Linked DNA regions of Homo sapiens: regions 1 and 3 are each linked to region 2. Evidence: fine-mapped expression QTL. A gene starts in region 2. Each other region holds a variant in brackets. All regions are shown on one strand. Distances are between the middles of the regions. Region 1 overlaps TRIM58 (tripartite motif containing 58). Region 2 holds the start of TRIM58 (tripartite motif containing 58). Region 3 overlaps OR2T12 (olfactory receptor family 2 subfamily T member 12).

Region 1 (8,187 bases), 26 kb before region 2:
AGTATACATCATAAGCCAAGTTGCAATTCTCGAAAGTTAAAAAGCAAAACATAGATAAATTGTATTACCTATTTAGAAAAATTTACACTCTAAGAAACACTTTTGGCCAGGTGCGGTGGCTCATGCCTGTAATCCCAGCCCTTTGGGAGGCCAAGGTGGGTGGATCACCTGAGGTCAGGAGTTCACAACTAGCCTGGCCAACACAGTGAAAGCCCTTCTCTACTAAACATACAAAAATTACATAGGTGTGGTGGTGCACACCTGTAATCCCAGCTACTCGGGAGGTTGAGGCAGAAGAATAGCGTGAACCCGGGAGGCGGAGGTTGCAGTGAGCCGAGATCGTGTCACTGCACTCCAGCTTGGGTGACAGAGTAAGACTCTGTCTCAAAAACAAAACAAAACAAAACAAAAAGAAACACTACTAGCAAAGTCTAAAAAATAATAACAATAGTAGAAAAATTCAACAAGACAACTGAAGGCTACCTTACTTAATTTTTTTCTCAAAAAAGTGGCAAGAAAAACCTGTAGTAAAAGAAAAATATGTAATGACTTGAAGAAACAGTTCACAGGAAAATGCATGATTTACAAGCAAGTGATATAAACATTAGAAATGTTTTCACTGATGATTGAGGTTATAAAAATTTAAATATAAAGATATTTGCTTTTCCAGATAGGTAAATAGTGAAAAGTGTGGTAATATCCAGAGCTTGAAAAAATGTGGGAAATAAGTCCAATCTCATAAACTTTTTTTTTTTTTTTTGAGACAGAGTCTCACTGTATCACTCAGGCTGGAGTGCAGTGGTGTGATCTGGGCTCACTGCAGCCTCATCCTCCCAGGTTCTCCTGCCTCAGCCTCCCAAGTAGCTGAGATTACAGGCATGTGCCACCACACCCAGCTAATTTTTGTATATTTAGTTGAGATGGGGTTTTGCCATGTTGCCCAGGCTGGTCTTGAACTCCTGATCTCAAGCGATCCACCCATCTTGGACTCCCAAAGTGCCAGGATTACAGGTATGAGCCATCATGCCTGGCCTCATGAACTCTTGATAAGAGTCAAAATTGAAATAGTATCTTTGGAGAGATCTTAAAAAAATGACTATTTAAATACACATATACCTTGACATAGTACATATTATTTTAACAAAAGAAATATCTGTCTTTCATAAAATGTTAAATGACATGCTTTTCTCATTGCCCTGTTAATTCCACATCTAGGAATCTGCTTTGCATTTATTAACCCTCAATCAGTAAACACATACTCTCAAAAACTTCATTATAGCATCTACTGAAATAGATAATACTGGGAAACAAGGTATGTTAAAGTGATAGACATGATTTAATAGACGACTGGAAACAATCACTAAATTGGAATGACATTACCCAGAATTTTGTCCAAAAAAAAGATATTAATATCAAACAAGTAGAAAGCTAACTATACTGGGTGCGGTGCCTCACGCCTGTAATCCCAGCACTTTGGGAGGCTGAGGAGGGTGGATCACGAGGTCAGGAGTTCGAGACCAGCCTGGCCAGGATGGTGAAACCCCATCTCTACTAAAATATACAAAAATTAGCCAGGCATGGTGGCACATGCTTGTAACCCCAGCTACTTAGGAGGCTGAGGCAGGAGAATCGCTTGAACCCGGGAGGCGGAGGTTGCAGTGAGGCAAGATCGCACCACTGCACTCCAGCCTGGTGACGGAGCGAGACTCCATCTCAAAAAACAAAAAAAAAAAGAAAGAAAGCTAAATATAATGTATAGTGAGATTATATGTAGTGTGACTCCATTTTTTGTTCACAAACTCTCACTATACAAACACAAATACACACGGTACGTATATATGTATACAGGCACATGTTGCAGAACAACACATTTTGGTCAACAACAAATTACATCTGTGGTGGTTTCACCTCCTCAAGAGGAGTCTGAGGCAGGTCCTTCAGGCAGTATCGTAGAAGGCATTGTGATCATAGGAGGTGACAGCTCCATGCATGTGGCTGCCCCGGAAATCCTTCCAGTGGGACAAGGTGTAGAGGTGGAAGACAGTGGTACTGATCATTCTGTCTCAGTGGACACCCAGGCTAATGTGTTTGCTTGTGTCTTAGTTTGCAATGAAAAAGTTTGAAAAGTGAAAAAAAAAAAAAAATAGAATATAACTTGTAGAATAAGAATAAAAAGGAAGTATTTAATACAGTTTTACAATGTGTGTTTTAAGCTAAGTGCTATTACAAAAAAAGTCACAAAGTTAATAAAAAGTAAAAGGTTTACAATGTAAAAATGTTTCCATAAACTAAGGATAGTTTCTAATTGAAGAAAGAAAAATACTTTTTAATGCATTTAATATAGACTAAGTGTACAAAGTTGATAAAGTCTGTAGTCATGTACACGACTGTCCTGGCTCTTCACATTCAGTCACCACCCACTCACTGACTCACCCAGAGCAACTTCCAGTCCTGCAAGCTCCATTCATGGTAAATGCCCTAGACAGGTTACCATTTTCTGTATTTTATACAGTATTTTTACTGTGCCTTTTCTATATTTAGATACACATATACTTACCACGGAGTGACAGCTGTCTTCAGTATTCACTACAGTACCATGCTGTACTCGTCTGTAGCCTAGGAGTGACAAGCTATCCCAGACACTTATGGCCCAGGATTGTGGTAGGATACACCATCTGGGTTTGTGTAAGTACATGCTGTGATGCTCACACAACGACAACATCACCTAACGACGCCTTTCTCAGAACACATCCCCATCGTTAAGCAACGCATGACTGTATTTGTATTCAAACAGAACTGATATCTGGACGTACGGTTTGAAATTGTTGAAAAGGCTCATTTCTAGCTTGGGCAACATGGGGAGACACCATCTGTACAAAAGTCAAAATTAAACCTTAGCCCGGCACGGTCGCACAAAGGTGTGGTCCCAGCTACTCAAGAGACTGAGGTACGGGGGTCAATGGGCCCAGGAGGTCGAGGCTGCAGTGAGCTGTGATCATGCCACTGGCACCTCAGCCTGGGCGACAGAGTGAGACCCTGTCCTCCCCGACCCCCGCCAAAAAGAGACTCACTTTTAGAAAGTGAAGTGGAGGTTAAAGAAGACTCTCATTAGAACGGGCACGGTGGCTCACGCCTGTAATCCCAGCACTTTGGGAGGCTGAGGCAGGTGGATCACCTGAGGTTGGGAGTTCGAGGTCAGCCTGACCAACATGGAAAACCCCATCTCTACTAAAAATACAAAAAAAAAAGAAATTAGTCGTGCGTGGTGGCGTATGCCTGTAATCCCAGCTACTCGGGAGGCTGAGGCAGGAGAATCACTAGCACCCGAGAGGCGGAGGTTATAGTGAGCCGAGACCACCCCATTGTACACCAGCCCGGGAGACAGAGCGAAACACTGTCTCAAACATAATAATAATAATAATAGTAATAATAATAATTTTGCATTGGTAGATGTAGTGCTTTGTTATAATTAAACGACTTGTGATATAAGTGCTGTCTGTGTATGTCTTTGTGTGTTGGTGTGTCTGTCATAATTTTTTTTTTTTTTTTGAGACTGAGTTTCGCTCTGTCGCCCAGGCTGGAGTGCAGGGGCGCGATCTCGGCTCACTGCAAGCTCTGCCTCCCGGGTTCACGCCATTCTCCTGCCTCAGCCTCCCAAGTAGCTGGGACTACAGGCGCCCACCACCATGCCCGGCTAATTTTTTTGTATTTTTAGTAGAGACGGGGTTTCACCGTGTTAGCCAGGATGGTCTCGATCTCCTGACCTCGTGATCCGCCCGCCTCGGCCTCCCAAAGTGCTGGGATTACAGTCGTGAGCCGCCACGCCCGGCCTGTCATAATTTATAAATGTTCTAAGAGCAAGGAGTATGTTCTTCAGATTTTTTTAACCCTTGAGGCACTCCCTATGACTTATTCATTTAACAAACCAACCTAGACGTGCAGACCTCTGAGCTGAGTTCCTCAATCCAGAAACCTGCTCACCATTTTCACTTGCATGCTGCTAGGCAACACTGAAAGAATGCAGGAACACAGACATAGC[G/C]AGAGGGCCTCAGCCAGGTCACGAAATGCCTTCTACCCTCTTGGGCGCACACAGGTGCTGTAGCCAGGCGTAAGGAAATCCAAGTGCCTCTCTCAGGCTTGGCCCATTCCTTATAAATGCAATGGCCCACAGTATTGGTGAACAGGGGTTTCTTGCAATTACGCAGTGTTGCAGCTCCGCTGAGGGAAGACTGGAGACGGACCCTGATGGCAGCCTGGGTTCATCAGCAGCCCAAAGCGCTGGGGAAACTTCAGACCCACAGGGATCACCAGCACATCCACTGAGGCAGAGGCGCGCACCACATCAAATTGCCCAATCTCCCGTCAGGTCCAGAGAGAAAATGAGCACCATGAGAATTTGTCCCTTGATATAAAAAGAATTTACTACCTCACATAAGTAAAATTAGGGGACTCAATTCATTGCTGTTCTAAAACCATAAATACCAATGAGCCATTTGCTCCCCTCCCCTGTTCCCAACAATCATTATACGGCTAAGAAAACAGCTGAGGCATAATTGGTCCCATGCTACCTAGAACAGAATCATGCATTTTGTTTTTTCTCTCTCGTTTTATCTGCTGAAAATAGGGCCAAAATATTTTGACATCTTCTTTTTACTAATATTTTTGTGTATGAAAGAGAAAGAACCCATTGTCCTACATAGTGAAAAAAATCACATAAAGTGTATTATTACATTAAGGAGCTACAGCATGGCCTGTTCTATTTTTATTTATTTATTTATTTTGAGACGGAGTTTTGCTCTTTTGCCCAGGCTGGAGTGAAGTGGTGCAATCTCTGCTCACTGTGACTTGCAACCTCCATCCCCCCAGGTTCAAGCAATTCTCCTGCCTCAGCCTCCCTAGTACCTGGGATTATAGGCACCCGCCATCACGCCTGGCTAATTTTTGTATTTTTAGTAGAGATGAGGTTTTACCATGTTGGCCAGGCTGGTCTTGAACCCCTGACCTCAGGTGATCCACGCCCGTTGGCCTCCCAAAGTGCTGGGATTACAGGTGTGAGCCACTGCGCCCAGCCTTATTTTTACTTTTTGGTTTGAAAGGAAGATGTTAGCATACATAGGTTTATAGTTTCAAAAACTGATAAGGAAATTGAGCAAGTATCATGACTTAGGTATGTATATGTAACTATGTTTTCAATGCTCTTATAAAGGCAAAAATGACATCGCAATGCTGAATTTTTTAAAGAAAATAAATATACAGAAATAGCCAAGCAATGTCAGAAAAAAAATCAGACTTAGAGTCAATTAACTAAGAAACTTATCAATATGACTGGGTACTTTTGGGTAGATGTAGTCAGAGAATTAGAGAGTAAAGAGACTATTCTACATGGTGTAGAATTCATAGAATATGTGTGGTACACATACGCAGGCCCTGACGTCCTTTCTTCCTCCCTGTGTGATAGAAAAGCAGACCACAGGGGGCCCCAGCAGCACAGAGAAAGCAAGTACCAAGGAGTCAGTGCTTGGAGGGCAGACAGGTTGAACAGATCCCAGTGTTCCCAATTCTCTGCGTTCTGGGGTTCTAGGGGTTGCAATCACCACTCTAAGTGCTTTCCATTACTTTTGCTGGCTAAAGAGGTTATTTCACTTCCCACTCCTGATTGCTCCCTGTATCCCCTCCTCCCAGTCCTCTTCACTCAGGGCCTTCTCAACATGCTAGAAAAATTAGTCTAAGGCCGGGTGCAGTGGCCCACACCTGTAATCCCAGCACTTTGGGAGGCTGAGGCAGGCGGATCACCTGAGGTCAGGAGTTCAAGACCACTAGCCTGGCCAACATGGCGAAACCCCGTCTCTACTAAAAACACAAAAATTAGCTGGGTGTGGTGGCGGGCGCCTGTAGTCCCAGCTACTCAGGAGGCTGAGGCAGGAGAATCACTTGAACCCGGGAGGCAAAGCTTACAGTGAGCCAAGATCATGCCACTGTACTCCAGCCTGAGTGACAGAGTGAGACTCCATCTCAAAAAAAAAAAGCTTAGTAAATTGATAAACCAGTCACCTGATTTGGAGAAGGGGTCATGAGGGTATGTTGGCCTGTTCTCACACTGCTATAAATATCTGAAACTGGAAAACTTATGAAGAAAACAGGTTTAGTTGGCTCACGGTTCCACAGGCCGTGCAGGAAGCAAGGCAGCATCTGCTTCCAGGAGGCCTCAGGGAGCTTTTACTCATGGCAGAAGGCAAAGCAGGAACTGGTGTCTTGCGTGGCAAGAGCAGGGGCAAGAGAAAGTTGCAGAGCCACACACTTTTAAACAACCAGATTTCACAACTTATCCAAGGGGGATGGTGTTAGACCATGAGAAACTGCCCCCATGATCCAATCACCTCCCACCAGGCCCACCTCCAACACTGGGGATTATAACTGAGCATGAGATTTGGGTGGGGGCACAAAGCCAAACCATATCGGGGGGTATTAAGCAAATTACTTCTTTGAATAAATTATCCACACTTCTGGATATGTAGACATAGTTCTGGAGGGTTATAGCTTAGAAAAGGCTAGAAGCTCATGTTGGGGATTGACTTTCTCTTTTAGTTTTCTATTTTTTAAGGGAGAGGGTCTCACTCTGTCACTCAGGCCAGAGTGCAGTGGCGTGATCCTGGCTCACTGCAGACTTGAAATCCTGGGCTCAAGCCATCTTCCCGCCTCAGCCTTCCAAGTGGCTGGGACTACAGGTTTGCACCACCATATCTGGCTAATTTGTATTTTTTTTGTAGGAACCAGGTCTTGCTTTGTTGCCCAGCTGGTCTCAAACTTCTGGTCTCGAGCAATCCTCCCACCGCAGTCTCCCCAAGTGTTGGGATTACAGGCATGAGCCACTGTGCTCTACCAGAGTTGATGTTCAAATTTTTATAGAGAACGAAAGAATTTCACTGGTAACTGTCAGAGCAGTCCTTAAGGATATGTCAGAAAGAAAAAAAATTATGATTTGAGATAGAAAAAATGCCAAATGTATATAACAGAAATGCACAGTAACAGGGAAGCGACGGGAAGGACAGCAGACCCAAGACACTCCATTTCTGGATGGCGTGGATGCACCATATCGTTTAGGTGAAGAAAGGCAACATAAAACATTAACATCAATTTTTTTTTTTAAAGGTTGTAGTCTATGTAAGTTTATAGAAAGTTCCCCATATTTTTAGTGATGATACCATTTTGAGAGGTGGCTTATGGAGTATGAGACAAAGCATAATTCAAAGGTGTCACTGTGATGTCACAGGGAATCAAAACCACAGGGGGCTCAATGGGACTAGGCCTGGACATGCCAAGTTATCAGGTCACAAAATCCATTATGTTTACAAACTTAAGACTTCTGCTCAATTTTTCTCTATATCCCCAAAATTTTACTAATTTAGCACTTGGCATTAAACATTATTGGCCAATAATAATAAATATTGTATCAGTAGACTATATTACATTTTGCAAAACATTTTCAGGTCCATCAATTTTGCTCTCCACATAGTCAATCATTTATTCATTCAACAAATACAGATTGAATGATAACCACATACAAACCAGCATTGGGGGTGCTTGAGAAACATTGAATGTATCATTGTCAACAGACAAAGATACCTCCCCTTGTGGTGTTTACATTTAGCACAAAAAGGCAAAACATACATAAATTAAATAAGCCTAACAATATAGTACGACGACACGTACTGTATGGGGAACAAAGAGCCTCCACTGAGCCTGGCAAGGGCGACTGGAAAGGTGAGCTCTAGATGGGCTCTGGGGGGAGTAGGGCTGTGTGGTATCACTGAGAAGCTGGATCTCAGAAGAGTTAAGGAAGAAAGGGAATAATGAGTCAAGGGGATATCAGGGAAAAGGGAATGTCAAGCAGAAGCCACAGGCGGGGAAATGGCCCTGTGATGGGAAGTGCCTGCTTTGGTGGAAACCCAGCCATGAGGCCAGGGCAGCTGGAGCAGAATGCAAAGGGAAGTGGGGGTGGGAGAGATAATCAGAGGAGGGATGGGGGTTCAGATCCTCTAGGGCCTGGGGGTTCACATCCTCTAGGGCCTGGGGATTCACTGTGAGGATTCTGACTTTCACTCTAAGTTGAATGGGAGGTCTTTGTGATGGTATCTAAGTCACTGTGATGCCAACATATCCTTGGGTGCTAAAGGAATCAGCCCAGCT
Region 2 (8,187 bases):
CTAATTTTTTTTTGTATTTTTAGTAGAGACGGGGTTTCTCCGTGTTGGTCAGGCTGGTCTCGAACTCCTGACCTCAGGTGATCCACCTGCTTCGGCTTCCCAAAGTGCTGAGATTACAGGTGTGAGCCACCACGCCTGGCCTTAATGTACATGTTTCTTCTGGGATAAGTGTTATCTTTTCCTATCCGTATATATCTATATTGTAATCTAGTAATGTAGTAAATAAAGAAAAATATAGTTTAAAAAGTCTTTATGTAATATCTGTATAAAGACAGAGTATAAGACTAAATTTTCAAAGAAAACAAGAAGGAAATAATTATAAATATATAGAGTGATCAGAAAAGAAGGGTTATTTGGAAAAGGAGAAAGAATAGGAATATTCTGCAAAGTATAACCTATTATATATCATATTATATAATACATTATATGAATATATAGAACTATACACACAGTTTCTATACGTAGTTTCTCAATCTTGACACTACTGACATCTTGAACAGATCATTTTTTCCTCACAAGATATGGGAACTGTCCTGTGGACTACAGGGTGTTAAGCTGCATTCCTGCCTCTACTAGATGACAGGTGCACTGCACCCACCCCTCCTCAGTTGTGACATCCAAAAATATCATCTCCAGAAATTGCAAAATGTTATCTTGGGGGGCAGGTATCGCCTCAGGTTGAGAATCACTGTGTGTGTGTGTGTATGTGAATCACTGTGTGTGTATGAATCACTGTGTGTGTGTGTACACGTGTGCACGCACATGTGCATGAATGAAACATGGAATAAAAAGAGCTAGTGAGGTATAAAAAAATGGAATATGTGTATGTATAGATGATAGAAAAAAAAGGCTAAACGTTCAGATTATTACCCTGTATATAAGATGATCACCTTGGGCTACACTTCTTCTGTTACAAAGTTGTGAAATATTCATTATTTCATTCACCTAACAAATATTTTCAAACTGGTAGCAACAGTATAAGATGCTATTCTAGGTGACAGGGATACAGCAGTGGGTTTTACAGGAAGATCAAACTAGCAAAGCTATTTAATTATAATTTGGATTGGGTGATGGCAGTAGAGACAAAAAGAACAAAAATGAACCATATCATTTGAGGGGACGGGATGACCCAGGATGGCTCTGAGGTGCTCTTGGGCATATATGGAGATGGAACAAAAGTGCTGGAGAATGGAAGATGGTAGAAGAATTACTGACCCGAATCTGGATCCTTCAAACAGGCAAGCCTCCTAAAGCCCCAACATGGTCTTACCTTCCAAATGACAGTCTTTTTCCCCACGTTGGCCTCCTGAGTCAAGGCGTCCTCCAACTCTTTCCTCATAAGTTCCAGAGCCATCTGGAGCTTTACCTGTTTGGGAACATTTCAGCTGTTACAGATGCCCTCAATCTGTACCTAACGTCACACAGATGTGTGAGGAAATACAAAAGTCAACTTAAACAGTCCCTAGAAAGCACATAAAAATGTTCAATATCATTAAAAACTAAACATAAATGTACTTAAGTTTTAGTGTCAGGGTCTCGCTCTGTCACTCAGGTTGTGCAGTGTTGCGATCATGGCTCACTGCAGCCTCAAACTCCTGGGATCAAATGATCCTCCCACCTCAGCCTCCCAAGCAGCTAGGACTCCAGGCACACATCATTACATTCAGCTAATTTTGTTTTCTGTAGAGATGGGGTCTTACTATATTGCCCAGGCTGGTGTCAAACTGCTGGCCTCCAGAGAGTCTCCCATCTTGGCCTTCCAAAGTGCTGGGATTATAGGCATGAGCCACTGGGCCTAGCTCCTTAAATGTATTTTAATACCAGATACAATCAAATATTTATCTAAAAGTATGCTCACTGCATTGTTATATACGATAGCATAACTAAACTAAAACATTAAAGATAGGGGAGAAAAAAATTATATTAACTGGATAGAATTAAAATAAGATGTTACAGAATGTTTAATGACTAGAAATACAATGATAATGTCCAATGAATAAAAATATTTTACAAAACAACATGAATTTTGAAAAAAAATGTGCTGGTAATGAATATATTAAAACTGGGCTGATGTAAATGAGAATGATATTAGATAAAATGTCATCTATTGGTGTTTGGATGAAGAGTGATGCTATTATATCTCTATATTTCATATATTTCTCTATATAACTATATTTATACATTTCTCTATATTTATATATTTCTCTATATAACTGTATTCTGTATTTCTCTATATAACTTCAACTTCTTGAAGTTATTGGTTACTTTATGATAAAGCATGGGTTTATTATTGTAGTATTAGTAGTATTATTAGGTCAGAAGGAACTTGGTAGGTTATCATATTTTATATGAAAAAACACAGTATGTTGTAAACCTTGCAATGAGTAAAAATACAATGAGAACTAAATCTTCCTTCAATGATAGGGCGCTCACTAGAGGTAAATATGTGTATTTTAAATACTCACAAAGATACATACATAAACAGGATTTTAATTAAAAAATTATATTCCCAAAGTTACTCAATAAATCCTACATACACATCAATTGTTTTTAAAAGGAGAATATTATAATTGTTATATATAAAATAACAGTAGAATTCATGATACCATTTGACTCAGTGGGGAAAGTGGCATGTGTTTTGGTGTTTACAAAGAACGGAGCACTTTGACACTTGTAGATAAAGAAAAGCTCCCTCAGGCCAAAGAAACTGTCAGCAAAAGCAAGGAGATGTAGCACAGTTAGGAAAACAGTGATTCGGCTAAATTTGCTGGGTTTCCTGGCTGGTTAAGACAAGAGAGCTATGGAAACATAACTTAGGGCCCTAGAAAGCTTTCACTGAGAGGCTCAGGAGTTTAGATAATATTTATTTGGTATTTAACCGAAGAACTACTGAAAATATGGAGAACACCTTTAGAAATATTACACTAGAGGCTGGGCTGCCTGTAACACCAGCACTTTGGGAGGCCACGGCGGATGGATCACAAGGTCAGGAGTTCAAGACCAGCCTGGCCAACACAGTGAAACCCCGTCTCTACTAAAAATACAAAAATTAGCCGGGTGTGGTGACGCATACCTGTAATCCCAGCTACCCGGGAGGCTGAGGCAGGAGAATTGCTTGCACCAGGACCCGGGAGACGGAGGTTGCAATGAGCCGAGATTGCGCCACTGCCCTCCAGCCTGAGCTACAGAACTAGACTCCGTCTCAAAAAAAAAAAAAAAAAAAAAAAAAAGTTACTACCAATCCTCTTTCTGGACTTTTTTTAAAAAGGCAAGAACATTCCAGAAAAGTTTAGCTAGAAATTACCTAGTACTAGTACCTACATCTCGCAAATGACAACGAAAATCAAGAAGAAATACCAAGAGAGATATTGGTAGAGAAGGAAGGGGAAAATATCCTAAACCTTAATTTAAAACAAACAAAATAAATAAATAAAAATTTTAAGAAAGTATTTGCAATGCACTACAGCGCGACTGACAGTCCTTTGGTTAAATCTGTCAGTAAAGACGACTTAGACCTCCTCTGTGCTGGCAGTTGTTCTACATGCTGGGATTCAAGTGTGTTCAGAAAACATCCAAGAACTTTTGAAGGGCACCAGTAGGAAGAAATCGACACACAATTTCACAGATGCCACTCTGGGGACCAAATACTCCCATTTTGTTTTTCTTCTTTCTCTTTGAAGCTTCCCGGGCTACACCCCAAATGAAGCACCTCTTCATTGAGGATGTTCGAATCCTAAGTCCCCAAATCCCTGCTGATGGAGAGCCACCCGCTCCTACTTCAGGAGGCACGTGCACCTGAGCTTTGGAGGGGTCGGAACCCGTACCCAGCTCGACACTCTTCTTAACAACGCCCAAACCCGAGGGTTGCTTTGCTGACAACACTCATTTAATGTAAACACTGTGCAAAAGCAAAGCATTGCACAAATGAGAATTATTATGGCAAGTTTACGATATAGACGTACAATTGTTACCAAGAATGAACTGGACCACACAGCCCTCCCGACCAGAGCCCAGCTGAGGGACCAGACTATCCGCATCGGGAGAAACCAGCCCAGCGCGAGTTCGACGACAGGAGAGTGCTTGGGGGAGGGGCGGACGGTGTAAAATAATGGGTGTGTGTCGCAAAGGGGGTTACCACAGCCAAGGCAAAGAGACCCACACTGAGTGAGCCGCGTGGGCGGGGGGGACGGCGCGCGGTGGGGGGAGCGGCCGTGGGAGCCGCTCAGGAGACGGGTGGCCTCGGCGGCTCCGCTCCGGACTGTCGCCCGCTTCCCGGTCACCGCAGCGCCCGCAGCCCCCGCCGGGGGGCGCCTCACCTGGTAGCTGCCGGCGGCCTCCTGCAGCGGCGCCGTGCGGTGCGTCCTGTGCTCGGGGCCGGCGTCGCACACCCAGCACAGCGCCGCCTCGTCCTCCTCGCAGAAGCGGCTCAGGTCCTCGCCGTGCCGCGCGCATCGCCGCGCCCCGGGCCCCGCGCCCAACCCCAGCCGCCGCACGCTCTCCACCAGGCCCGCCAGCTGCCGGTTGGGGCGAAAGCCCGAGGGCCGGAAGGGGCCCCGGCACTGCGGACAGGCGTAGACGCCGCCCTGCGCGCCGTCCGACTTCTCGCAGAACTCGGAGATGCACCTGAGGCAGAAGCTGTGGCCGCAGTCCACGCTGACCGGCTCCTGCAGGAAATCCAGGCACACCGGGCACCGCGCATCCTCGCGCAGCCGCTCCCCGGGCGGCGCCCAGGCCATGACCCGCCTCCCGGAGGGCTGCGCTCCCGGCCGCCCGCACCGTCTCCCCTCGCGGTCTGCACAGGGGGAGGAGCCCACGCCCCAGGAAAGCAGGCGCCGACGGGTGGTGTCCGCTGGCTTCAGTTCAAGAGCTCAGACGAGCCACACCCGGTGAAAAGCCACCACTCAGGCGCTCCCTATGTCGGGGATAAAATTAACGTTGTGGTTCCCCGCCCCCGTCACACACACACCCAGGAAACTGGGCATTTCTAACTGGAATCCCTCCTCATATGCTATTTTCACTGGCAGTAGATCTGGAGAATTGCTAAATTCCCTCCTTCCTTCCATCTTTGTTTGTTTGTTTTTGTTTTTGTTTTTTTGAGAGGGAGTCTCGCTCTGTCGCCCAGGCTGGAGTGCGGTGGCGCGATCTCGGCTCACTGCAGCCTCCGCCTCCCGGGTTCAAGCGATTCTCCTGCCTCAGCCTCGCAAGCAGCAGGGATTACAGGCGCCCGCCACCATGCCCGGCTAATTTTTGTATTTTTAGTAGAGACGGGGTTTCACCATTTTGGTCAGCCTGGTCTTGAACTCGTGACCTCAGGTGATCTGCCCGCCTCGACCTCCCAGAGTGCTGGGATTACAGGCGCGAGCCACCGCGCCCAGCCTCCATCATCATTATATAGATTTAGTGCAGATTTCTGGGGTACCAGTGCAGTTTTGTTACATGGAGACACTGCATAAAGTCTAGGCTTTAGCGCAGGCATCGCTGTGATAGCGTAAATTGTTCTCATTAGGTGATCTCTCATCCCTCGCCCGCCTTCCACCCTCCGAGCCCCTTCCATTGTTACTGAGCTACTCCATGGTCCTCTCATGCCATAATCGTTTCTTAAAAGGCTTTCCCCCTTTATATGGCATAATCAATTTTTAAATGTTTTTTTCAAACTTCATTTTTTTCTCTTGCACTAATTACCTCTTGATAAAGAAATGAGACACCGCCTGACACGGGAAGATGCCTGCATAGGTGTGTGTAACTATAGGTTTACAGCCCAGCCAAAAATAATTCTAAATATTTAAATAAATATCTGGCCTAGTTCAATGAGGATCCTACAAGGAATACACACATGTTGTAGGATTGTTGCAAAGCCAGTCTTGGAGATGACAAAGCTATAGAGATACTCATCAGAGGAATAATTCAAGCTTAGCCTCTCAGTGGTGTACCTGTCAGATGGGGGAGGCTGAGACAGGAGCAAAATGATTTGACAGAGTATGTTACTTCATCCAGTGGAAGGCTGAATCAGGATAAAGTACATTAAAGTCTCTAATGTCGTCCAGAAAGTCGACAAGTCTGAGGCAGTGTCTGCATCTGTGCAAAATAACTTTAGTATGGTCGAGTTTGAAGTGATGGTGGGGTGTACCTGTGGCAAATCAATCTGTCCCTGAGCACACATTGTGTCTGTTTGTAGCCAGGAGTCTCAGACATTGCACCGGGTACTGAAAATACACATGTTAAGGAAAAGAGGTGGGACCCCATTTCTCCAGGAGCCTTAAGATCAACTAGAAGAGGTGGATATGAAATCATGCAAACATATAATTACAAACCAATAACTGCAAGGAAGGTCGCTCACCAGTCCTGCAGGAATATAACAGAGGACTCTGAATGAGGCTGCAGGGTCGGGGGCAGACACCTGAGGTCTCTGAGCAAACCTCTGATAGGTGAACACAAGCTGGCCAGCGGGAAGGGGGGCTCCGCAAGGCCGTGCCCCCAGAAGCCATGAAAGGTACAAGGTAAACTTCAGCAGGTGGGAGCAAGACATACCCAGATGACAGTGAGAAGCCAGGCAGGCTGGCAAGCTGGGCCAGAATATGGTGGCAGCAGATAAGGCTGCAGCAAGAGGCGGGGCCAGATGACTCAGGTCCTTGGGGATCCTCTGGGGTTTGTGGGTCTTCATTATAAGGACAAACTCTTGGGCTGGATCTCTGGCGACAGGCAGAGCAGAGGATCTTGAGGCCTAAAGGTTAAGTGCGCAATTAAAGCGAATAGATTCTTGGAGAACACACATGGATCTGTATTAGCAAAACACGAAAGATGTGGCATTAGAGAAAAAAGCTAAAGAGCAGAAGGCTTAGCAAAGAAAAACAGACTCTGGCTCCGGACTAAGGGCTGTGGCACTTGCTGAGAAGCTTGAGGCAAGCTGTGCCGCGTTTCTGCCCTGCATTTCTTCTGACGTGCAGTGAAGAGGTGTTAGTGTCATTCATATAAGGCCTTTCAGAGTATTAAACGAGCTAATAGATAGTAGACACTTAATATAGGTCCTGGCATGTTGGAAATACACACACACACACACACACACACACACACACACGTATATATATTGAGACAGGGTCTTGCTCTGCTGCCCAGGCTATAGTGTAGTGCCACAACCTGACTCACTGTAGCCTCTACCTTTCAGGCTCAAGTGATCTTCTCACCTCAGCCTCCCAAGTACCTGCGACTACAGGTGCCCGCCACCACGCCCAGCTAATTTTTGTATTTTTTGTAGAGACAGAGTTTCGCCCTGTTGCCCAGGCTGGTCTCAAACTCCTGGGTTCAAACAATCTCCCCACCTTGGCCTCCCAAAGTGCTGGGATTACAAGTGTGAGCCACCTCGCCCGGCCATGTAGCAAATATATTTAATTGAAGAAAAGGAAATGAAATAGTGAAGTGAATGGAAGGATGGTGAGTCAAAAGGTAAGCTACATTAGGAAGAGAGATTTTTTTCTATTTTGTTCACTGCTCTATCTATCCCCAGGACCTTGAAGAGTAACTGGCACAAATGGACACTCCACACATACTAACTGATTAAACAAGTTAATAAGTAAATGAACAGAATTAGGACAGTTTATCATAGGAGCTAATGAAAGAGGGAAGTTCAAAGATGATTATATTATGTCAAATGTCAAATCCATGTTTTTCTGCATTTTACATATATGATCTTGCCCTGGCTCTCCATAACTCTGGCAGATGCTGGAGCATTTTTCTATTTTGCAGGCATAACGAGACACAGTAAAACAATCCATTTACTCAAATATATGGGCCAGTTGATAACTAGGCTCACTTAAATTCAGATTTCCTAGTGCCTGTGATCCTAAGGAAAGGCCCCTGGCTTCTGACGTTGGGGGTCACTGTGGTTTTCAGTAGGGTGTGACGGAGTGGGCGAGCTCACTTCTTCCCCTGCTGGTCCTAGAGTTGCTGAGCTTAAACTGTTTTGTCTCTGACACTGGTTGACTAGGAATGACATCGGTACCATTGTTCTTAGAAACACACATTTCCCTTACAGCACGTCCATGCAGGTAAGTTGTGGACTGGATTATATCCAGATGTCATTGTATTTACAAATGCTATGTGGAGTGCCTCGCCAGGCAGTTTCTGGTTTAATGGGAATACTCTAACTTAAATTTGTATTTTCTCATGAGCTTTCTTTTGGCGTAAATAAAG
Region 3 (8,154 bases), 440 kb before region 2:
CTTACTTAGAAGGAATGTCAAATTTCTCGTTAGAAACAACATTATTTTTCTTTATAGAATTTTATTGAATAAATGTTCACATGGATCTTAATATAGAAGGCATAGGGCAATCTAGTGCTCAGTATTTTCAATTTTATCACTTATAAACTGTTATAAATTTGTGATATATCTTGCCACATTCTCTGTGACAGGATGAAATCAATGAAGTCAATTTTAGCATGTGGGTATGAAGGGAATTTTGAGGCAATGAAGGGAGGTGAAAAAATACAACACAAATAAGAGTGCATTTATATAAATTCAGCCTAAACTAATGTGATGGAGACAATTCAGAGGGATATGTAGATTTACATTTGTAATCAATTTTGTTTTAATGCTGCATCATTCAATGGAATGTAAAACATATGGTAGAAATGTCTAAGTGATCAAGTAGAATTAATCACCATTTTATCTCAACTTAGTGACTTGGAAGTAGTGTTTCCCAAATGTAAAGAACACTTTGCCAACTGAAAAAGAAGCATAGGGAGAAGCGAACTTGACCACATAGCTTCCTTCTTGCAAGGAAGCTCATAGCAAGACTCACTTAAAGACAAATTATGGTGGAAATCTGAGGTAATACCGTTTTATTTGGATAAATTGTGTATTACAACAGTTGACAAGATCCAGATAACTGGGACAGCTATGGTATGATGGTCAAAATAGGTGGTTCCATAAAGTAAGTTGAGATGAGTTATTTTCTTGAAGTGAATTCCGCTCATAAGCACTGGAAATTATTGAGGCAATACAATGTATTTTCCCAATTTTCCTTAAAAGCCCACCTCTTCTTGAGGTTAACACAATGGCACCCTGAGGTGGGAAACCCACAACACTAAAGATCCCAGAAATGCCCATTTCTCATTCTCAAGACATTGACTGAACCTAGATCTCAGATACCAATAATCAGGTTTATCCAAGTTCTTGATTTGTTTTAAAACCAGAAAGGGAGGAGGTTGAGACCTGTTTCTCTCTTCATGATGATTGACAAAAATGATTTGCCTACTATCATGTGATCGAAGACACAAATTTAATCTCCATTTCTAGTATTGTGCTGGTCACATGCTGACTGAAGCTGAATTTCTCTATCAATTTATCTGTAAAAGACTTCTGATGTTATAGGAACTATCTGTTTGCTTTGGAGACATATTCTTTTTGGAAAAACTCGATCACATATTAGACATCGTTTTTCTATTTTTTTAATTTTATTATTATTATACTTTAAGTTTTAGGGTACATGTGCACAATGTGCACATGCTATTAATTTCCCTCTACATACTGCTTTGAATGTGTCCCAGAGATCCTGGTATATTGTGTCTTTGTTCTTGTTGGTTTCAAAGAACATCTTTATTTCTGCCTTCATTTCGTTATGTACCCAGTAGTCATTCAGGAGCAGGTTGTTCAGTTTCCATGTAGTTGGGCGGTTTTGAGTGAGTTTCTTAATCCTGCGTTCTAGTTTGATTGCACCGTGGTCTGAGAGACAGTTTGTTATAATTTCTGTTCTTTTAGATTTGCGGAGGAGAGCTTTACTTCCAACTATGTGGTCAATTTTGGAATAGGTGTGGTGTGGTGCTGAAAAAAATGTATATTCTGTTGATTTGGGGTGGAGAGTTCTGTAGATGTCTATTAGGTCCGCTTGGTGCAGAGCTGAGTTCAATTCCTGGGTATCCTTGTTAAATTTCTGTCTCGTTGATCTGTCTAATGTTGACAGTGGGTGTTGAAGTCTTCCATTATTATTGTGTGGGAGTCTAAGTCTGTTTGTAGGTCACTCAGGATTTGCTTTATGAATCTGGATGCTCCTGTATTGGGTGCATATATATTTAGGATAGTTAGCTCTTCTTGTTGAATTCATCCCTTTACCATTATGTGATGGCCTTCTTTGTCTCTTTTGATCTTTGTTGGTTTAAAGTCTGTTTTATCAGAGACTAGGATTGCAACCCCTGCCTTTTTTTGTTTTCCATTTGCTTGGTAGATCTTCCTCCATCCTTTTATTTTGAGCCTATGTGTGTCTCTGCACGTGAGACGGGTTTCCTGAACACAGCACACTGATGGGTCTTGACTCTTTATCCAATGTGCCAGTCTGTGTCTTTTAATTGGAGCATTTAGCCCATTTACATTTAAAGTTAATATTGTTATGTGTGAATTTGATCCTGTCATTATGATGTTAGCTGGTTATTTTGCTCGTTAGTTGATGCAGTTTCCTCCTAGCCTTGATGGTCTTTACAATTTGGCATGATTTTGTGGTGGCTGGTACCCGTTGTTCCTTTCCATGTTTAGTGCTTCCTTCAGGAGCTCTTTTAGGGCAGGCCTGGTGGTGACAAAATCTGTCAGCATTTGCTTGTCTGTAAAGTATTTTATTTCTCCTTCACTTATGAAGCTTAGTTTGGCTAGATATGAAATTCTGGGTTGAAAATTCAAAAGCTAGCAGAAGGCAAGAAATAACTAAAATCAGAGCAGAACTGAAGGAAATAGAGGCACAAAAAACCCTTCAAAAAATTAATGAATCCAGGAGCTGGTTTTTTGAAAGGATCAACAAAATTGATAGACCGCTAGCATGACTAATAAAGAAAAAAAGAGAGAAGAATCAAATAGACGCAATAAAAAATGATAAAGGGGATATCACCACCGATCCCACAGAAATACAAACTACCATCAGAGAATACTACAAACACCTCTACGCAAATAAACTAGAAAATCTAGAAGAAATGGATAAATTCCTCGACACATACACCCTCCCAAGACTAAACCAGGAAGAAGTTGAATCTCTGAATAGACCAATAACAGGAGCTGAAATTGTGGCAATAATCAATAGCTTACCCACCAAAAAGAGTCCAGGACCAGAAGGATTCACAGGCAAATTCTACCAGAGGTACAAGGAGGAACTTGTACCATTCCTTCTGAAACTATTCCAATCAACAGAAAAAGAGGGAATCCTCCCTAACTCATTTTATGAGGCCAGCATCATCCTGATACCAAAGCCGGGCAGAGACACAACCAAAAAAGAGAATTTTAGACCAATACCCTTGATGAACATTGATGCAAAAATCCTCAATAAAATACTGGCAAACCAAATCCAGCAACTCATCAAAAAGCTTATCCACCATGATCAAGTGGGCTTCATCGCTGGGATGCAAGGCTGGTTCAATATAAGCAAATCAATAAATGTAATCCAGCATATAAACAGAGCCAAAGACAAAAACCACATGATTATGTCAATAGATGCAGAAAAGGCCTTTGACAAATTTCAACAACGCTTCACGCTAAAAACTCTCAATAAATTAGGTATTGATGGGACATATCTCAAAATAATAAGAGCTATCTATGACAAACCCACAGCCAATATCATACTGAATGGGCAAAAACTGGAAGCATTCCCTTTGAAAACTGGCACAAGACAGGGATGCCCTCTCTCACCACTCCTATTCAACATAGTGTTGGAAGTTCTGGCCAGGGCAATTAGGCAGGACAAGGAAATAAAGGGTATTCAATTAGGAAAAGAGGAAGTCAAATTGTCCCTGTTTGCGGATGACATGATTGTATATCTAGAAAACCCCATTGTCTCAGCCCAAAATCTCCTTAAGCTGATAAGCAACTTCAGCAAAGTCTCAGGATACAAAATCAATGTACAAAAATCACAAGCATTCTTATACACCAATAACAGACAGAGAGCCAAATCATGAGTAAACTCCCATTCACAATTGCTTCAAAGAGAATAAAATACCTAGGAATCCAAGTTACAAGGGACGTGAAGGACCTCTTTAAGGAGAACTGCAAACCACTGCTCAATGAAATAAAAGAGGTTACAAACAAATGGAAGAACATTCCATGCTCATGGGTAGGAAGAATCAATATCGTGAAAATGGCCATACTGCCCAAGGTAATTTATAGATTCAATGCCATCCCCATCAAGGTACCAATGACTTTCTTCACAGAATTGGAAAAAACTACTTTAAAGTTCATATGGAACCAAAAAAGAGCCCACATCACCAAGTCAATC[C/T]TAAGCGAAAAGAACAAAGCTGGAGGCATCACGCTACCTGACTTCAAACTATACTACAAGGCTACAGTAACCAAAACAGCAAGGTACTGGTACCAAAACAGAGATATAGATCAATGGAACAGAACAGAGCCCTCAGAAATAACGCTGCATATCTACAACTATCTGATCTTTGACCAACCTGAGAAAAACAAGCAATGGGGAGAGGATTCCCTATTTAATAAATGGTGCTGGGAAAACTGGCTAGCCATATGTAGAAAGCTGAAGCTGGATCCCTTCCTTACACCTTATACAAAAATCAATTCAAGATGGATTAAAGACTTAAACGTTAGACCTAAAACCATAAAAACCCTAGAAGAAAACCTAGGCGTTACCATTGAGGACATAGGCACGGGCAAGGACTTCATGTCTAAAACACCAAAAGCAATGGCAACAAAAGACAAAATTGACAAATGGGATCTAAGTAAACTAAAGAGCTTCTGCACAGCAAAAGAAACTACCATCAGAGTGACAGGCAACCCACAAAATGGGAGAAAATTTTCGCAACCTGCTCATCTGACAAAGGGCTAATATCCAGAATCTACAATGAACTCAAACAAATTTACGAGAAAAAACAAACAACCCCATCAAAAAGTGGGCGAAGGACATGAACAGACACTTCTCAAAAGAAGACATTTATGCAGCCAAAAAACACATGAAAAAATGCTCACCATCACTGGCCATCAGAGAAATGCAAATCAAAACCACAATGAGATATCATCTCACACCAGTTAGAATGGCAATCATTAAAAAGTCAGGAAACAACAGGTGCTGGAGAGGATGTGGAGAAATAGGAACACTTTTACACTGTTGGTGGGGCTGTAAACTCGTTCAACCATTGTGGAAGTTAGTGTGGCAATTCCTCAGGGATCTAGAACTAGAAATACCATTTGACCCAGCCATCCCATTACTGGGTATATACCCAAAGGTCTATAAATCATGGTGCTATAAAGAAACATGCACACATATGTTTATTGCGGCACTATTCACAATAGCAAAGACTTGGAACCAACCCAAATGTCCAACAATGATAGACTGGATTAAGAAAATGTGGCACATATACACCATGGAATACTATGCAGCCATAAAAAAGGATGAGTTCATGTCCTTTGTAGAGACATGGATGAAATTGGAAATCATCATTCTCAGTAAACTATTGCAAGGACAAAAAACCAAACACCGGGTATTCTCACTCATAGGTGGGAACTGAACAATGAGAACACATGGACACAGGAAGGGGAACATCACACTCTCGGGACTGTTGTGGGGTTGGGGGAGGGGGGAGGGATAGCACTGGGAGATACACCTAATGCTAGATGAGGAGTTAGTGGGTGCAGCGCACCAGCATGTCACATGTATACATATGTAACTAACCTGCACATTGTGCACATGTACCCTAAAACTTAAAGTATAATTAAAAAAATAACAAAACTAAAAAAAAAATTTTTATTCATTTTGATCTGTAAATATACTCCTGTTTGTAGTACATGATCTCAGTTAGAACATTAAAAAGTTGAGCTATAGAGAAGTGAATGCCAGGTCAGGAAAAGCTGTGCCTACTGGGAGTCAGGGCTTTGAATCACGACCTGGGATAACATATCCAGTACATATGTCCAGAAACTGTGCAGTCAAACAGTTATTCAGACCATAAAAGCCTCTTCTTTCTCTATTTTTCCATTTGCACCATCACACCAGGGGAAATTATGGAGATGAGAAATACTACCCCAGATTTTATTCTCCTAGGACTCTTTAACCACACCAGAGCCCACCAAGTCCTCTTCATGATGCTTCTGGCCACCGTTTTGACCTCCCTGTTTAGCAATGCCCTCATGATTCTCCTGATTCACTGGGACCACCGGCTCCACAGGCCCATGTACTTCCTCCTGAGCCAACTTTCCCTCATGGACATGATGCTGGTTTCCACCACTGTGCCCAAAATGGCGGCTGACTACTTGACCGGAAATAAGGCCATCTCCCGCGCTGGCTGTGGTGTGCAGATCTTCTTCCTCCCCACACTGGGTGGTGGAGAGTGCTTCCTCTTAGCAGCCATGGCCTATGACCGCTATGCGGCTGTCTGCCACCCACTCCGATATCCCACTCTCATGAGCTGGCAGCTGTGCCTGAGGATGACCATGTCGTCCTGGCTCCTGGGTGCAGCTGACGGCCTCCTGCAGGCTGTTGCTACCCTGAGCTTCCCATATTGCGGTGCACACGAGATCGATCACTTCTTCTGCGAGGCCCCCGTGTTGGTGCGTTTGGCTTGTGCTGACACTTCAGTCTTCGAAAACGCCATGTACATCTGCTGTGTGTTAATGCTCCTGGTCCCCTTTTCCCTCATCCTGTCCTCCTATGGTCTCATCCTCGCTGCTGTTCTGCTCATGCGCTCTACAGAAGCCCGCAAGAAGGCCTTTGCCACCTGCTCTTCACATGTGGCTGTGGTGGGACTCTTTTATGGAGCTGGCATTTTTACCTATATGAGACCCAAATCCCACAGGTCCACTAACCACGATAAGGTTGTGTCAGCCTTCTATACTATGTTCACCCCTTTACTAAATCCCCTCATCTACAGTGTGAGGAACAGTGAGGTCAAGGAAGCCCTGAAACGGTGGCTGGGGACGTGTGTAAACCTAAAACACCAGCAAAATGAGGCCCACAGGTCAAGATGATCTAGTGTCAGATGAGTCTAAGTTCCTGAATTTATTAACATTTTAACACTATGTAATTCTCTCCCTTTAGTAATTCATGAAGAGAAAATTAAGTTTGTGTATTGATATAATAAGATATTTTTAAGAATGAAGTGAGCCAATTGTATTGACAGATACCATTTTTGAGCATTTATGTACTTTTCTTCAAGTGAAGTAATACCTATAGATTACTTTGTATCCTACAACAACCCCATGATATAAGTTTTCTTTTTTTCTTTTGCAAACTCCAAATCTTTAAAAGGTGTCCCAAATTTTTCATCAAAAATATCTCTACTTACCTATGCCTTGGGAGAAGTAAGGTAACCCAATAATGTATAAGGTTGTTGAGTGTTACTCAATTTCCTACTATCTGAAAAAAGAAATTAACACATGGAAAGTTAAATATGGTTCCTAATTTCACATAGAACAGAAATATTAAAAAGTGACTCCAAAGCTTGTACCCTAACCTGGAAGAGTTTATTTCTGTTCAATAATGTATTTTGAGTGTTATTTCCCATGTGTATGCTCTACAATTAAAAACTAAATATGAGGACTCCACCAAAGACAAATAACATTATTTTTAAGTTATATTTTAAAATATAGATGCATGACAAAAGGGGAAGTACACAACTCAAATGTAACTGCTATATTGTCACAATCTTTTTTTATTTTTTCCAGTCTCTTTTTATTTGGTGTTTTAAGGCAAACTTTTTTAAATTCATGTAATTTTTTATATAAGTAATATTTATCTTTTCCAAGAGCGTCATTGTAATTGCATTGGAAAATTGTTTTAAACTACAAATAAGTTCTCTTTTCTACACGTGCTTTAAGGTTACCTTGACTTATTGACATACCTCCATCGATATGAACTCTGAATTGCATGATCATGCTGAATCTTGACAGTTACTAACAATGAGTTATCAAAGCTGAGTAAGACTCAACAACCTTATACATTATTGGGTTACCTTACTTCTCCCAAGGCATAGGTAAGTAGAGATATTTCTGATGAAAAATTTGGGACACATTTTAAAGATTTGGAGTTTGCAGAAGAATAAAAGAAGACTATACTATTATTAAAGACACAAGATAGATAGTGATGGAGGAAAGCAGTGGTTATCAAAGCCAAATTGTAATCAGAGACTGGATATCAAATTGTCTTAGAGAGTTTTATGATAAAGGCTATATTTCCCATATGTAAAACACACTTAAGAAATAATATAAGTTTTTAACACGAAGGAGGAAATAACTAAGAGCTTCCAGGGACAATGTATCTTCAATATAAGTGTCTGAAAGTTAACCCGCCATTTCAGACCAACCTGAATTTCAAAAGGTAACTGTTCTAGAACAAGTGAAAGGAGTTTCCTGCTTCATCTAGATCTTCAGGTTCCAAAGCAGTAATATAGTTAA

The links. PIP is the estimated chance that this variant, and not a neighbour inherited with it, causes the effect. A credible set is the group of variants that fine-mapping cannot tell apart.
Region 1: its variant is the best candidate, but not a certain one, in a credible set for the expression of TRIM58 in testis (GTEx, PIP 0.56).
Region 3: its variant is the best candidate, but not a certain one, in a credible set for the expression of TRIM58 in whole blood (TOPMed, PIP 0.50).

Annotation. Positions count from the first base shown.
Region 1 is chr1:247,879,448-247,887,634 of GRCh38, reverse strand. TRIM58 (tripartite motif containing 58) reads right to left here. Exons shown (of 6, transcript NM_015431.4): 6 at 7,497-8,187. Among named protein-coding and RNA genes, the nearest start is that of OR2W3, 12 kb to the left of the region's middle. The variant G/C (reference allele first, on the strand shown) is at 4,040.
Region 2 is chr1:247,853,796-247,861,982 of GRCh38, reverse strand. It overlaps TRIM58 (tripartite motif containing 58), which reads right to left and starts at 4,796. Exons shown (of 6, transcript NM_015431.4): 1 at 4,317-4,796; 2 at 1,271-1,366. The coding sequence starts at 4,736. RefSeq lists a cis regulatory region at 6,319-6,883.
Region 3 is chr1:248,293,191-248,301,344 of GRCh38, reverse strand. OR2T12 (olfactory receptor family 2 subfamily T member 12) reads left to right here. Exons shown (of 3, transcript NM_001004692.2): 3 at 5,759-8,154. The coding sequence starts at 5,767. The coding sequence ends at 6,729. Among named protein-coding and RNA genes, the nearest start is that of OR2T12, 6.2 kb to the left of the region's middle. The variant C/T (reference allele first, on the strand shown) is at 4,028.